Linked DNA regions of Homo sapiens. The protein of the gene in region 1 interacts with the protein of each later gene in a pairwise test. Each region holds a gene or a part of one and is shown on either strand. Other genes may lie near its edges.

The links.
Region 2: the proteins of SERPINA3 (region 1) and VPS33A interact in binary tests that used the Homo sapiens proteins (3 or more experiments, as listed by UniProt).

Annotation. Positions count from the first base shown.
Region 1 is NC_000014.9:94,615,391-94,622,390, reverse strand, and holds part of SERPINA3 (alpha-1-antichymotrypsin precursor), read right to left. Parts: intron 3,197-7,000; coding exon 2,923-3,196; intron 51-2,922; coding exon 1-50. UniProt on the Homo sapiens protein: Although its physiological function is unclear, it can inhibit neutrophil cathepsin G and mast cell chymase, both of which can convert angiotensin-1 to the active angiotensin-2.
Region 2 is NC_000012.12:122,235,491-122,242,527, forward strand, and holds part of VPS33A (vacuolar protein sorting-associated protein 33A), read right to left. Parts: intron 7,019-7,037; coding exon 6,892-7,018; intron 4,456-6,891; coding exon 4,388-4,455; intron 3,235-4,387; coding exon 3,097-3,234; intron 434-3,096; coding exon 296-433; intron 1-295.

The DNA of each region.
Region 1 (7,000 bases):
TATAGTCCCTCGAGATGGAAAACTTTGGCAGGTAGAGCTCACCTATCTCTCTAGAAAACGAGAAAAAAAAAGTATCTGAACCTCTGCTGATCAGTACCTACCTGCCTCCCACCTCGCAGCATGGTCTTCCCTGGTTTCCTCTACAGTCACCCCCTTCTGATTGGAAAATAAATAATCTGTTCCTCAATTTCTTAACCCCTGTCTTTACTCTTCTTATTCATTAATTATTCATTCAGATCTGCAAGTGTGAAAGTCTCCAGGCAGCACACCAAGCCTGGAGTTGTGGCCCTGCTCGAGCCTGGCCCTGCCCTTTCCCTGCAGCTTGCAATGCAGTTGAAGCACCTTCACACCAGCAGGGACCCCTGAGTGTGTTGAGAGCCTGGGCTGGGCCAGCTGCAGTGGCTGCATGGCAGCCTGCTTCACGGGGGCACCAGGAGGGCTTCCTGTAGGAGGTGGTGTTGAGGCTGAGTCCCAAAGGCAGGAAAGGAGCTAGCTAGGTGAAGAGGTGGGCAGGAGGCAGGTGGAAGAACCTGGAAGAAGGTGGGAGCAGGAGGAGTTGCTCCACGGGGCGGTGGGTGATCTCAGTGTTTCAGGGAGGAGGGTAGTGAGGGATGAGGTGGGCCAGGAGCCAGAGGCAGGTCAAAAAGGGCCTGGGGGCCTCTGAAGAGTCTGATTGTGTTAGAAGAGCTTTGGGGATCCTGAAACAATCAATTGGAGGTTCCCATCTTGCCTCACCAGTGGGCACTGTCCCTCAAGCCAGGTGTGGGCTGGCATAGAGCAGGTAGCAAGCTCCTAGAGGCCCAGGTCACACCTGCCACCTGCAAACTCCCCCTCCCTTAGTTTATAGCCCTCTTAAGATGCCTGTCACTGTCTGCCTGGTCTTACAATTATACAGGAGGCTGTGTCTTCCATTAAACTCTGAGTCCCCTGAAGGAGGAAGGTGTCCTATTTCTATTTTTATTCATTCATTCATGTGTTTGTCCGTTCATTCCATCCTTCATTCAACAAGTATCTATTGAGCATTCTCTGTGGGCCAGGAGTGTGTGGACACATGTTTCCTCAGCATTTTGTAAATCAAAAGTGTTTGGAGAATTCTTTCCACTCAAAATTATCTGCTGAGCCCCTGCTCCCTGGTGGCTATTAGGTGCTAAAGGAGGAAGGAGTCTGGGAGTAAACGGATGGGTTGGGTAGGACCCCCACGTTCTGGGGTCTCCTGGGATCTAGAGTGAGGAGGGGCTGAGGGTCAGGCAATCCCGAGAGGTGTCCGGCCTTCTGGACAGTGGTTGGGGCAGGGGTTGCAGCCTCAGGTTAGTGTTGAAGCAGCTCCCTTGCCCTTAGTGGTTTATTATGGCTTCAACATACAATACCTCACCGGATTCTCACAATCACCCAGTGAAAACAGGGGTGGTGGGGAAAGGACATTCCTTTCTCTTCAGGAGGTAGCTGAGCTCCAGAGAAGAGCAGCGACCTGCTCCAGGTCACACCAGCCACCACGGTCTGAACCCAAGGCTGGTGCTCCTTCCTCTCTACCCCACACAGCTGCCCACATGCACTCCCTGGGCCCACTGCAGGGTCTGGGCCCGGAACTACTGCTCCTCCTCACTGTGTCCCCATGAAATCGGTCAGCTCAATTCCGTGTGTCCCAGCAAGTTCCTCTACCCTCAGATTTATCCAGAACTCAATGACTTCTCACATGCATGGCTCCCTCCTGGATCCCAGCCACAGTGGGCTCCCACCTCATGTCTGTGCCTGGTTCCTGCGGGTGTCACTGACTCCATACCTGCTCTACAGTTATTCTCCTCTCAGCAGCCAGGATTAGTCTTTTAAAACAACACTCGGATCGCAGCACTCCTCCAAACCTCCTGATGGCTCTCCATTTCACACACAGGAGGAAGGGCAAGGTTTTCTAGGGGTCTACGTGGCCCTACCTAAGCTGCTCCACCCCTTTGGGGACTCCTGACCTCTCTCAACTCTCTCCTCACTCTCTCTGCTCCTGCACCGTGGTGGAGCTGAAGTACACAGGCAATGCCAGCGCACTCTTCATCCTCCCTGATCAAGACAAGATGGAGGAAGTGGAAGCCCAGCTGCTCTGGCCTGACTCTTCTTTGACCACATCAAGCTCACTTCCACCTCAGAGGCCTTGCACTGACTGTTCCCTCTGCCAGGAATGCTTTTCCCTAATATACCAACATGACTCCACCCCTCCCCTCTGTTATATGGATGCTCAAACATCACCTAATGGCTACTCTATCTAAAATCACAAACTAACACGAGTTCCAGTTTTCCTGATCCTTTCATCCTCCTCTACTCAATTTCTATCCCCTTACTCAATTTCTCACCTTCTAATATATCACGTAACTTATTTGTTATATTTATTTATTGCCTGTCCCCTCTCCAATTACAAATTAAGCTCCAGGAGGGCAGGGAATCTTGTGTTTTATTTGCTGATTTACTCTCAGGGTGCAAATTAGTGTCTGACACATAGTAGGTGCTCAATTAATCATGCAGCAAATGCTGAGAGAATGAATAAATACAGTGGTTCACCAGTGCAGAACTGATTCTCAGAGTCCATCTCACTGCAGCCCTCAACTGATCACAATTCCTTCTGTTTCTCTCTCCCTTCAAGAGATTGAGACCAGGAGAAACCATGCATGAGTGTTTGGGACTGTGCAGAAGATTTCTCATGACTTAGAACATGCTGGAGTCAGAGGAAGCCTCAGCCCCTTGTCCTGTCTGATGTCATTGTCTTAAAGAAGAAAAAGAAAAATCAAGCCCAAAGCCATGTAGGCAGCATAGGGCAAAGTAAGTGTAAATTCCACCTGTCCCTGTATGAGTTCTCCCACCACCATGCCCTTGTCCCTGGACATTGGTGAGACCTTGACGTGGAGAGATGTGGGGTCTTTGGGGGCCAGGAAGAATCACCTGAACTCCAGAGAGTCTCTCCACCGCTTCAGGGTCTCTGGGAGCAGCATGGCTTCCACTTCCTCCATCTTGTCTTGATCAGGGAGGATGAAGAGTGCGCTGGCATTGCCTGTGTACTTCAGCTCCACCACGGTGCAGGACAGCTCCTCGTCCCGGAAGTAAGGTATAGTCAGGTGATGCAAACTCATCATGGGCACCATTACCCACTTTTTCTTGCTCAAGTAGAACCTTGACTGATGAGTATCTTGGGGGTCAAAGGGCATCTCCCATTTGGCTGAAGGTGGAGCAAGCAGTTGGAGAAGGTGTGAGTGCAAGGGTCGCCCTGCTCGACCCTGCTTCCGCAGCAGTGGAAGTGCCCAGAGTCCCTCATAGGAGGGACCCTGCTTTGGTTTAGAGAAGTAGCTTGGCAAGAGTAAAAGTTATTGGGGGTGAGGGAGAGCCCAGCAGGCTTGGATTGGGAAAAGGGCCACAAAAGAAAGACCTAGTTCCTTGTGCTAAATGAGAAATCAATAGGAACCAGGGAATAAGGAGTGCAAGAGAGAAAGAAGGTTTAGGGAAAGTGGGGGAAAGAGGCATGACAACATGTGGGAGGCTGGTGCCTGAGGAGAAATGGGACAGCCTTTGTTCCATAAAAGGAAAAATGTCTCATTAGCAATTATTACTCACTGGTATTACAGGGATGTGAACATATAACAGTGGCTTGTGGGAGGGCTTTGGGTGGAAATAAGAGGAAAGAGACTGGGTTCTGTATGTGAGTTGGTGAGGGCAGACAGAAGAGATGCCAATCAGTGTGAATGAGGGGAGGAACAGGAAGAACCTTAATGGAAGATAGAACTCAGAGCCAGGAGAGACCATGGGAATAAAAGCCTAGGGACACTTGTGACATCTTAGAGGATAGCGGTGTTGGACATCACAAAAGCCATGAGCTGGCTATGGTCCTTAGCTCATATCTAGCTCATGTCCACCTCTACAGACCATGAATATTCAGCTAAGATTTGCCCTGGATTCAGTGTCTGTCAGGCTGAGGATTCAACTGTGGGTGTTCTGACTCTGAGGCTGCCTAGGCTCTCAGTGTTGCAAAGGTAAAATTCCATGAAACTGCCTCTGGTACCTCTAGCTATCACAAACCTGAAATGCAGCCTGACTCCTAGCCAGGCTGACATAACTCCTCTCACTAAAGGCCTATTTACCATAGTAAAGAGAAAGAGAAAATCTTGAAAGAGGTAGAGGTAGAGGCAGAGGGAGGAAAACTCCACCTTATCTAAAAAGGAATAAGGATGAAAATGACAGCAGACTTCTCATCAGAAACTATGCAAGCAAGGGAAGAATGGAGTAAAATATTTAAAATGTTGAAAATTCCATGAAACTCATTCTTTGGGAATCATGACATAGGCCCATGATTCGCACGCATTTAGTTGGGTACAATTATTTTCCTCCCCTAGAACAGGGGTCAGGAAACTATAGCCTGTAAGCCAATACAGCCATAGCTTATTTTTGTGTGTACCTAAAGCTAAGAATGGTGCTTATATTTTTCAAAGGTTGTAAAAAAAATGAAGAGGAAAGAGAAGATGAAGAAGATGCAGAGGAGGAAGTCAAAAAGAAGAATCTGCCCTCATGTGGACCACACAGCCTAAAATACATACTACTAGGCCCTTTATGGAAAAAAAATTGTCAATCCTTTCTCTAGGTTGTGGGCTCCACAATCTTTCACCTCCATTCTTGGTTTTAGGAGATGCTTGGTAAAAGCTCATAAAGTCACAAACGGCTTTACTTTAGGGGTTAAAATGAGGGAGCAAAAGGAATTTTCAAATGGGCCCAGGTCAACTTTGAATGTTTAATTATTTGCTTTTCTGGACGGCATGTCTCCTACCTAACAAATGGCAATACCACCATCCACCTTTCAGAGCCGCTGCGAGAATTAAACGAGGTATTGCATGTGAATGGCTGGTGAGAGTAGCTGCTCAATAAATGGGAGCTTCTTTCCTTTCTTTCTTTATTTTGGTTTTTCTTTCTGTAATTGCAATGAGAGCCAGCTTCTGGGTGGCCCTACATTCTCTTGTGCCCTCATCTTCCTTCTTGACACTTCCCCACCTTTGGGCTTTCTAGGACCAAAATAACTGTCCATCTTTCCTTTCCCCTCCCCAAAGACCATCTCAGCTTCTCTGGTCCCTGCAGCCTCCCAACATGGAATGACTGGGGACAAATGTAATTGTAAAGATCCCTTGGAGAAAGGACCCATCTCAGGGTAGGAGATATTTCAGTTGAACAGGTGTCCCCGTTACCAATTGCAGCAGCCATTCAGGGGCTTCTGTGGCCTCCATGTGAGGGCAGTGCCATGGAGCACCTTCCCATATTACCCAGGGCACCGAGCTCCTTTGGGGCCTTTCAGCTGGCCAGATCTCCAGCATGGGTCCCTGCCAGAAAGATGGGCTGCCTCTGGGGACCCTGACTGCTGCCTTGTATGCCAGAATGGGGAGAGAGATAGGTTTGGTGGATGAAATCACCACCCAAGCTCTACAAGCCTTTAAATCTTCTCACATCTGCTCCCATCTCCCCCCATTTCTGTCTGCCAGCCACCAAGTTTTCCAATTTTGCCTCCTTAACATCTTCTGACATCCTCAGCTGTTCAACTGAGGGCCCGAATGTCTGGTTAGTCTAGTGTCTTTAGTATCTGATCTCTGCTTGACTCAACTTTCTCTCTGCTGTAACGGCCTTCGCTTCTTATTCTATCTGGATTTAAGAGAAAAGACGAAAACCGTTTTCTAGGGGAAACCTTCCTTTCTTGAATTCCCATCTTCTGCCCCTGGTTGGATGCCCCCACCCCCTTACTTTCAGCTGAATACATAGTTCTAGCATCACTGGGTGAGTCAATCCTTGCATGCTCTTGGGTCCAGTGGGTGCAATGGAAGAGGAAGAGCAGAAAGGGAGGGAACAAGCACTCCAGGGTTCTGAGCTGGGACTGTCTCAGCCTGAAGCTCATGCATGCTCGGTCCCCTCCACCTTCCACAGGGCTGCCCCAGCAGTGACCAAGCCCCGTCACATACACTGTATGTAAACCAGGCTGAGGCAGGGAGCAAAACTGGCACCTGGAGAGTGAGGAGAGGTCAACAGAGGAAGGGGAGGGGCCCTGCAGGTCTCCACTCCAGGAGGACCAGAGCACTGAACAATGAGGGGGGTGGGAGCTTCCAGGGGAGGCTGGAGACATGGGGCCACCTCCACTGCCCACCTGTTTACCACCTGCCTGTTTCCCATTGTTAGAGGCAGGTGGGGAGGGGAAAGCTAGGCTGGCTACTGTGTCCTGGAGGGGAGAGTCCTAGCATAGGGCTAGGTAGTAGGAGGCGAGAACATGGGAAACTCAGAGAACAAATGGCACGTGAGGCGTGGAGTAGTCTTAGAGGGAGATCTGGATCCACGCCTTCATTTACAGATGAAAACCCAGGCCCAGGAGGGGAAGTGGCTTGCCCAGGAATCAACCAACAGCTTCCAAGCAGGACTCTGCCTCCAAGCAGCTCATGTCTCCTAAGCACCTTTCCACCCTCTGGCTCAGTGATCACTCTTTGTGTCCCTATCTCTTTTTTTGTCCCCATCTGGACTGTGGGCTCCAGGAGGCAAAAGCTACCGGCTTGCACTCTGCCCCTTCGGAGCTTGCAGGCTGAGGTTTGCATTGGTTGAGTTTCTATCAATGGGATTGGGCACTGGACCAGTTAGAATCTGGCAAAGGGTCATGTTTTGTATACTGCCCACCCTTGAGGCTCTTCCCCAGATGGGAACAATGCCATTTCTGCCCTCATTTGTTATGTGTCAGTGACATATTTTTTAAAATAATTAAAGATGATAGCAGAGTAGAATCATAGAATCTTGGAAGTGGCCAGGCTCCTTGGGGATTATCTTGCCCTGTGAAGATGGCCCCAGCCCCACCTGGCCACCTCCAGACACCAAGGCCCCTGGCTGGAATGTGCTCCTCCCACATGTGCAGGGCAGGAGCCCCAGGTGCATCCAGACAGAGGGACTTCCTGGCCTAGTCTAGCAGCACCCCTGCAAGGAGGGAGCTCTAGCTCCTACGCGCCCTGGAGTGGTT
Region 2 (7,037 bases), on another chromosome or scaffold:
TGAGCTCAAGTGATCTGCCCGCCTCGGCCTCCCAAAGTGCTGGGATTATAGGTGTGAGCCACCGCGCCCAGCCCACATCTTTATTAAACTCTCCAGAAACTCCCCAGTTTAAGAGCATTCTCTGTGTCCTTCTAGGATTCTGATGGATACAATACATGCATACATTACTTTTTCAAAAACATTAGAAAATTGTTTTCAGAAAGCAAGGCAGATGTGTAGGTTCAGAAGCATGTGTTGTCACCTGGACGATCTAACCAGTCCCTAAGCTGAGACGAGGTGGAGAAGTGTGGCTTACTTGCTCATTAACATCATCCATCCAGAGGCGTAATGTTTTCCGTATAGTTGGGTAATTGTTTCTGCCCCCCGTCTGCGGTTTCAGCAGGCCGGCCTTCTCCAGGTTGTGTAAGGTCAATATGTGCTCATAGCCGTATGTCTGCAAGGGAAGTCATTTGGCCTTGATGTCAGATCAGGAAAAGGATTTCTGCAATTTTCAAAGAAGGGCACTTCCAACAAATCAATTTGGTTTGTACTGCAGGACATGTTACCAAAGTCCAGCAATGTTAGTGGATGGGCACAGAGGACAGGGTGGAGGGATGAAACTTGTCCTAAAACTGCTTGCCTGTTACTATTAATTCAGCTCACTGTTTCAAAGAGAAATTTAAAATTTTTACTTTAAAGTCAGAATTTATGGACCCAATCTAAGCAAGCATCAAATAAATGATAGTATATTTTTATAAGGGATATAATTAGCTCTAAAAAAGAGTAAGGCATATGTATACATCCTGATAAGAAAGGTCTCCAGAATATATTAAAAAAAAAATAACATGTAGAGTAGGACATTATTTCTATTTTTAAAAAGTAGCCAAGGTCTGGGCATGCTGGCTCACACCTGTAATCCCAGTACTTTGGGAGGCCGAGGCGGGCCAATCACTTGAAGTCAGGAGTTTGAGACCAGCCTGGCCAACATGGTGAAACCCTGTCTCTACTAAAAATTAAAAAATTAGCTGGGCCTGGTGGCATGTACCTGTAATCCCAGCTACTCGGGAGGCTGAGGCAGGAGAATCGCTTGAACCCAGGAGGTTACAGTGAGCCAAGATTGTGCCACTGCACTCCACTCTGGGCAACAGGGTGAGATACTGTCTCAAAAAATAAATAAATTTTAAAAAGTAGCCAACACTTATAAAATACTTTCTATGAGCTGGGCACTGTTCTGGTCTAAGCACTTACATACATTAACTCAGTCATCCCGGCTCTAACCCCATGACGTAGGTATCATTACCTTCATTTTACAGAGATGTTTAAATAACCTGCCTAAAGTCACACAGCTAGTGAAGAGCAGAGCTGAAACCTGGATCCAGCCAGTCTTGCTCTGAAGTCTGTGTATGGAAACATTCTGTCTAAATGCAAAGAATGGAGTTTGGAAGGAAGCAAATCAGACTGCTGACACTGGTCACATCTGGGGAGGGAAACTGGGGTATGAGCAAGGTACAGGGGACGTTCACATTTTGCTCTGTGTACTTCTGCATTATTTGACTCTTACACAAGGATACATAACTTAAAAAAAGACAAAAACAAAAAATTAATGAGCACTCAATTTTAATAAAAATGTACTTAACTGTCACTGGTAACAGCAAATAAATACTACCTGAGTCATTTTCAAACAAAGGGGAGACTTTTCAAAAACAAGAGTGGCCTTTTCCTTATTATAAGTAACACAGGCTTAATTTAAGTAAACCTGCTAAGCAACTGTCATCAGAAATTTGCAGAAAGTTCTTTTCCTCCGTGGTATAACTGCGGAGTTAAGAACATGGGCGCTACACTCAAATTGCCTGGTTTACCACTGGCTGTGCCACTTACCAGCCAGGTAACCTTGGGTGAGTTACCTAAACTAGTCTGTGCCTCAGTTTTTCATCCATAAAACTGGGACGATAGCAGTCTCTAACTCACAAGGCTGTTGTGAATATTTGTTGTTGTTGTTATGGTAACTACAGTTAACAAGGAAGTATTGTGAAGATGAAACAAATGAATGCACATAAAGTTTTTCTTTTTTTTTTTTTTTTTTTTGAGACGGAGTCTCGCTCTGTCGCCCAGGCCGGACTGCGGACTGCAGTGGCGCAATCTCGGCTCACTGCAAGCTCCGCCTCCCGGGTTCACGCCATTCTCCTGCCTCAGCCTCCCGAGTAGCTGGGACTACAGGCGCCCGCCACCGCGCCCGGCTAATTTTTTGTATTTTTAGTAGAGTCAGGGTACAGAGCCACCGCGCCCGGCCTATAAAGTTTTTCCAATAGATCCTAGCACATAGTAAATGCTCAAGAAATGTTACCTATTATTATTATTTTTTACTTTTTGTAAACAAGCTATGTTGCCTAGGCTGGTTTTGGACTCCTGGGCTCAAGCAATCCTCCTAACTCAGCCTCCTGGGTAGCTGGGACTGCAGACACAGCCACCATGCCTGGTAAATTTTTGTATTTTTTTTGTAGAGACAGGGTCTTGCTATGTTGCCAGGCTGGTCTTGGCCTCCAGCGATCCTCCTGCCTCAGCCCCACAAAATATTGAGATAACAGAGGTGAGCCACTGTGCCCAGCCTGTTAGCTATTATTATCACACAAATACAATAAACAGTGATGGCTACCAAGACCAATTCCTCTAGGTGTTAAAAAATTTATACAACAGTCGTTACAAGATACCAAAATGGCAGCTTTGTAATTTTTATTTTTTTTAATTTTAAATTTTTTATTATTATTTTTTGAGACAGAGTCTCACTCTGTTGCCCAGGCTGGAGTGCAGGGGCATGATCTTGACACACTGTAACCTCCGCCTCCTGCGTTCAAGCGATTCTCCTGCCTGATCCTCTCAAATAGCTGGGACTACAGGTGCATGCTACCATGCCTGGCTAATTTTTGTATTTTTAATAGAGATGGGGGTTTCACCATGTTGGCCAGGCTGGTCTCAAACTCCTAACCTCAAGTGATCCACCTGCTTTGGCCTCCCAAAGTGCTGGGATTACAGGCGTAAGCCACTGTGCCCGGCCCATGAAGTATTTTTTAAAAAGATGCTGTCCCCCTTGGCAAATTAATAATTTAAAAATATACTCACCTGGAGAATCTCTCTTTTGTAATAATCCAAAACTTTTTGTTTGAGCCCACTATTACACACGGATTGGAGGCAAACTAGTCTTAACACCTTGATCAACGAGTGCTTTTGGGCGATACAATCCTCAATGTAATTGTTGACCTGGAAATAAAGTAGCATACATATACATATACATTTACATATACATACACACACACACACACACACACACACACACACACACAATACATGGTTTAGGAACTTAACTTGATGTTTATTATTATTTTTCAAAGTCCAATAAAGGAGATACGTGGGAAAATGAGTTATTTTTCCACAGTCCCTAACCCTTCCCCGAAATAGCTCTGCTAGCCCCAGCCACACACACACCCTGGCCACCACACACACACACACACCCCACACACACATACATACATACACACACACACACACACACACACACCCCCCAGTGATCAGGCCAAGTCACTGGAGCCCAAGGCCGCTGAGAATACAATTGGTCACTCCATATGCCTGTCTGGACACGTCTGTCTCTAAGGACACGCTTCTGAGAGGCTACCAGATGTCTACTCCATTTCAATAGTATCAACAACTAATCTAGCAAAAAGTATCAGTAATTGTTTTATGTTAGGAATTTTCATAAAGTGAATAATTTAAAATTTGTTAATAGAGCTATTTAAAGGAGTTATATAAGAAACTCTTTCAAAAGAGCAAATACCTTATCTAATACAGTCTTAAAAAGATTTGATTTTAGGGGCCAGGTCTCATGTTGCCATGTATGGCAGAAAGTGTCTTGCACAGAATAATGTTAAATATCTGTTACTTGATAAAATCTACACTTGCACATTTTGCATTTGCTCTTAAAAATATTTAAGTGGCCGGGCGCAGTGACTCACGCCTGTAATCCCAACAGTTTGGGAGGCCAAGGTGGGCGGATCACAAGGTCGGAGATCGAGACCATCCTGGCTAACATGGTGAAACCCCGTCTCTATTAAAAATACAAAAAATTAGCCAGGTGTGGTGGTGAGCGCCTGTAGTCCCAGCTACTCGGGAGGCTGAGGCAGAATGGCGTCAACCCGGGAGGCGGAGCTTGCAGTGAGCAGAGATGGCGCCACTGCACTCCAGCCTGGGCAACAGAGCAAGCTGGGTGACACACAGTGAGACTCCGTCTCAAAAAAAAAAAAAAAAAAAAAAAAAAAAAAGGCAAGGCATGGGAATCAAAGCAATTGGTTTTCTGGCTATAATCTGAGGTTTAATAAGCTTTCAATTACTTGTTAAAGAGGTTTTTTTGTCCACATACCTTATCAGTGTCTATTCCAGACATAAACTCCTGTTCCACGGTTAATTTATCAAAAAAGTCTTCAGAAGCTAAAATGAAATTAGCAAATTTGCAACTTAGAAATTAAATGTTAATTTACTTGAGTGGCATGCTTTTATACACAGAGCACGATTCAGAAACTAGACATGTGGCTGGGCACGGTGGCTCACACCTGTAATCTCAGCACTGTAGGGGGCCGAGGTGGGTGGATCACTTCAGGCCAGGAGTTCAAGACCAGCCTGACCAACATGGCCAAACCCCATCTCTACCAAAAACACAAAAATTAGCTGGGTATGGTGGCACACACCCGTAGTCCCAGCTACTCGGGAGGCTAAGGCACAAGAATCACTTGAGGCGGGGAGGCGGAGGTTACAGTGAGCCAAGATCACACCATTGCTCTCCAGCCTGGGCAACAGAGCGAGACTCTGTCTCAAAAGAAAAGAAACCAGACATCATGCAAAAAAGCAAGCAAGCAATAAGTTCAAGTCATCACCTGAAGAAAATCTTTTAGGAAACATGGAAAACGCTAGGCCTCTGCACTCCTAAGTTACACTAGATACAGTCGACAAGTGCACTCTTTTGTATCCTTAGGATTTCAGTACAGACCCCAGAATGAGCGTCAGTATGAATGAAAGCTAATTTCTCAAGAACATTTCATTTTCATCATTAGGTTCAACCCAATTTCAACTGGTTTCCACTCCTATGAACAGGGAAACAAAGGACTGATTTTCCGATAACTGTGATTTACTTAAGATTCGAAGTATACTTCATAAAACAATCTCCTACTCAGCTTTTACAGCCCTGTGTTGTAACAAACAAACAAACTCATGTCTGCTTTAATAGATGTCTTCTGAGCTCTTTCAAAATACTCAACATATACTCTTTGTACCAATTCTGCACAGAATATTCAAGGGAAGAACATGCGCCAATAAGTAATCCTTCAAAAAAGGAAAAAAGCTGCTGGCCGCGGTGGCTCATGCCTGTAATCCCAGCACTTTGGGAGCCAAGGCAGGCGGATCACCTGAGGTTGGGAGTTTGAGACCAGCCTGACCAACATGGTGAAACACCATCTCTAGTAAAAATAGAAAATAAGCCAGGCGTGGTGGCAAGTACCTGTAATCCCAGCTACTTGGGAGGCTGAGGCAGGAGAATCACTTGAACCCGGGAGGCAGAGGTTGCGGTGAGCCAAGATTGTGCCATTGCACTGCAGCCTGGGCAACAAGAGTGAAACTCCGTCTCAAAAAAAAAAAAAAAAGAAAAAAAGCTAGACTAAAAAAATTAACCATCTCAGATTATGATGGCAAACTTATGGATAATTTTTTTCTCTTATCTACATTCCAAATATTTTTCATATAAATGATAATGAAAAAATTTGAGTTAAAAAATGGACCCTTCCTCTCTTTCTCTTTTTCTTTCTTTCGTTATTTCGAGATGGAGTCCTGCTCTGTCGCCCAGGCCGGAGTGCAGTGGTGCAATCTTGGCTCACTGCAACCTCTGCCTCCCGGTTCAAGCAATTCTCCTGCCTCAGTCTCCTGAGTAGCTGGGATTACAGGTGCCCGCCACCACACCTGGCTAATTTTTGTATTTTTAGTACAGATGGTGTTCCACTATGTTGGCCAGGCTGGTCTCGAATGCCTGACCTCAGGCGATCCACCTGCCTCGGCCTCCCAAAGTGGTGGGATTACAGACATGAGCCACCTCGCCCAGTCTTTTTTTTTTTTAATGGAGTCTCGCTCAACCAGGCTGGAGTGCAGTGGCGTGATTTCAGCTCACTGTAACCTTTGCCTCCAGGGTTCATGTGATTCTCATGCCTCAACCTCCTGAGTAGCTGTAACTACAGGCATGTGCCACCATGCCCAGCTAATTTTTGTATTTTTAGTAGAGACAGGGTTTCGCCATGTTGCCCAGGCTGGTCTTCAATTCCTGGACTCAAGTGATCTGCCTGCCTCAGCCTCCCGAAGTGCTGGGGTTACAGATGTGAGCCATCATGCCTGGCCAACAAATGGAACATTCTTTTTGTTTTGTTTTTCGAGATGGAGTCTCACTCTGTCACCCAGGCTGGAGTGCAGTGGCGTGATGTCGGCTCACTGCAACCTCCGCCTTCCAGGTTCAAGCAATTCTCCTGCCTCAGCCTCCCAGGTAGCTGGGACTACAGATGCATACCACTGTGCCTGGCTAATTTTTGTATTTGTAGTAGACATGGGGTTTCATCATGTTGGCCAGGCTGGTCTCAAACTCCTGACCTCAAGTGATCTGCCCGTCTTGGCCTCCCGAAGTGCTGGGATTACAGGCATGAGCCACCATGCCCCGCCTGGAATATCCTTAACTATTAACATATGTATACTTCATTAACACTGAGAAGAACACGTGGTATTAAGACAGAGCTGACTCTCCCGAAGAGGCATTGTGGTGTTGATGACCTAGGTGTCAAACGTTGTATGTGCAAGTAGCCCCAGACTGAAACAATCATTACAAAGGATACTCACTAGTGACATCTTTGATCAATTCTGCAATTGAGGTATGGTTTGCAAGCGAGCCCCTTGCTGCCTGCATGTGGGGCAACTGGGAAACAAACTGCTTGATCTCCCCCACGGTCTTAGCATTGTGTCTTTCCTGAAATAAACAAGAGAGC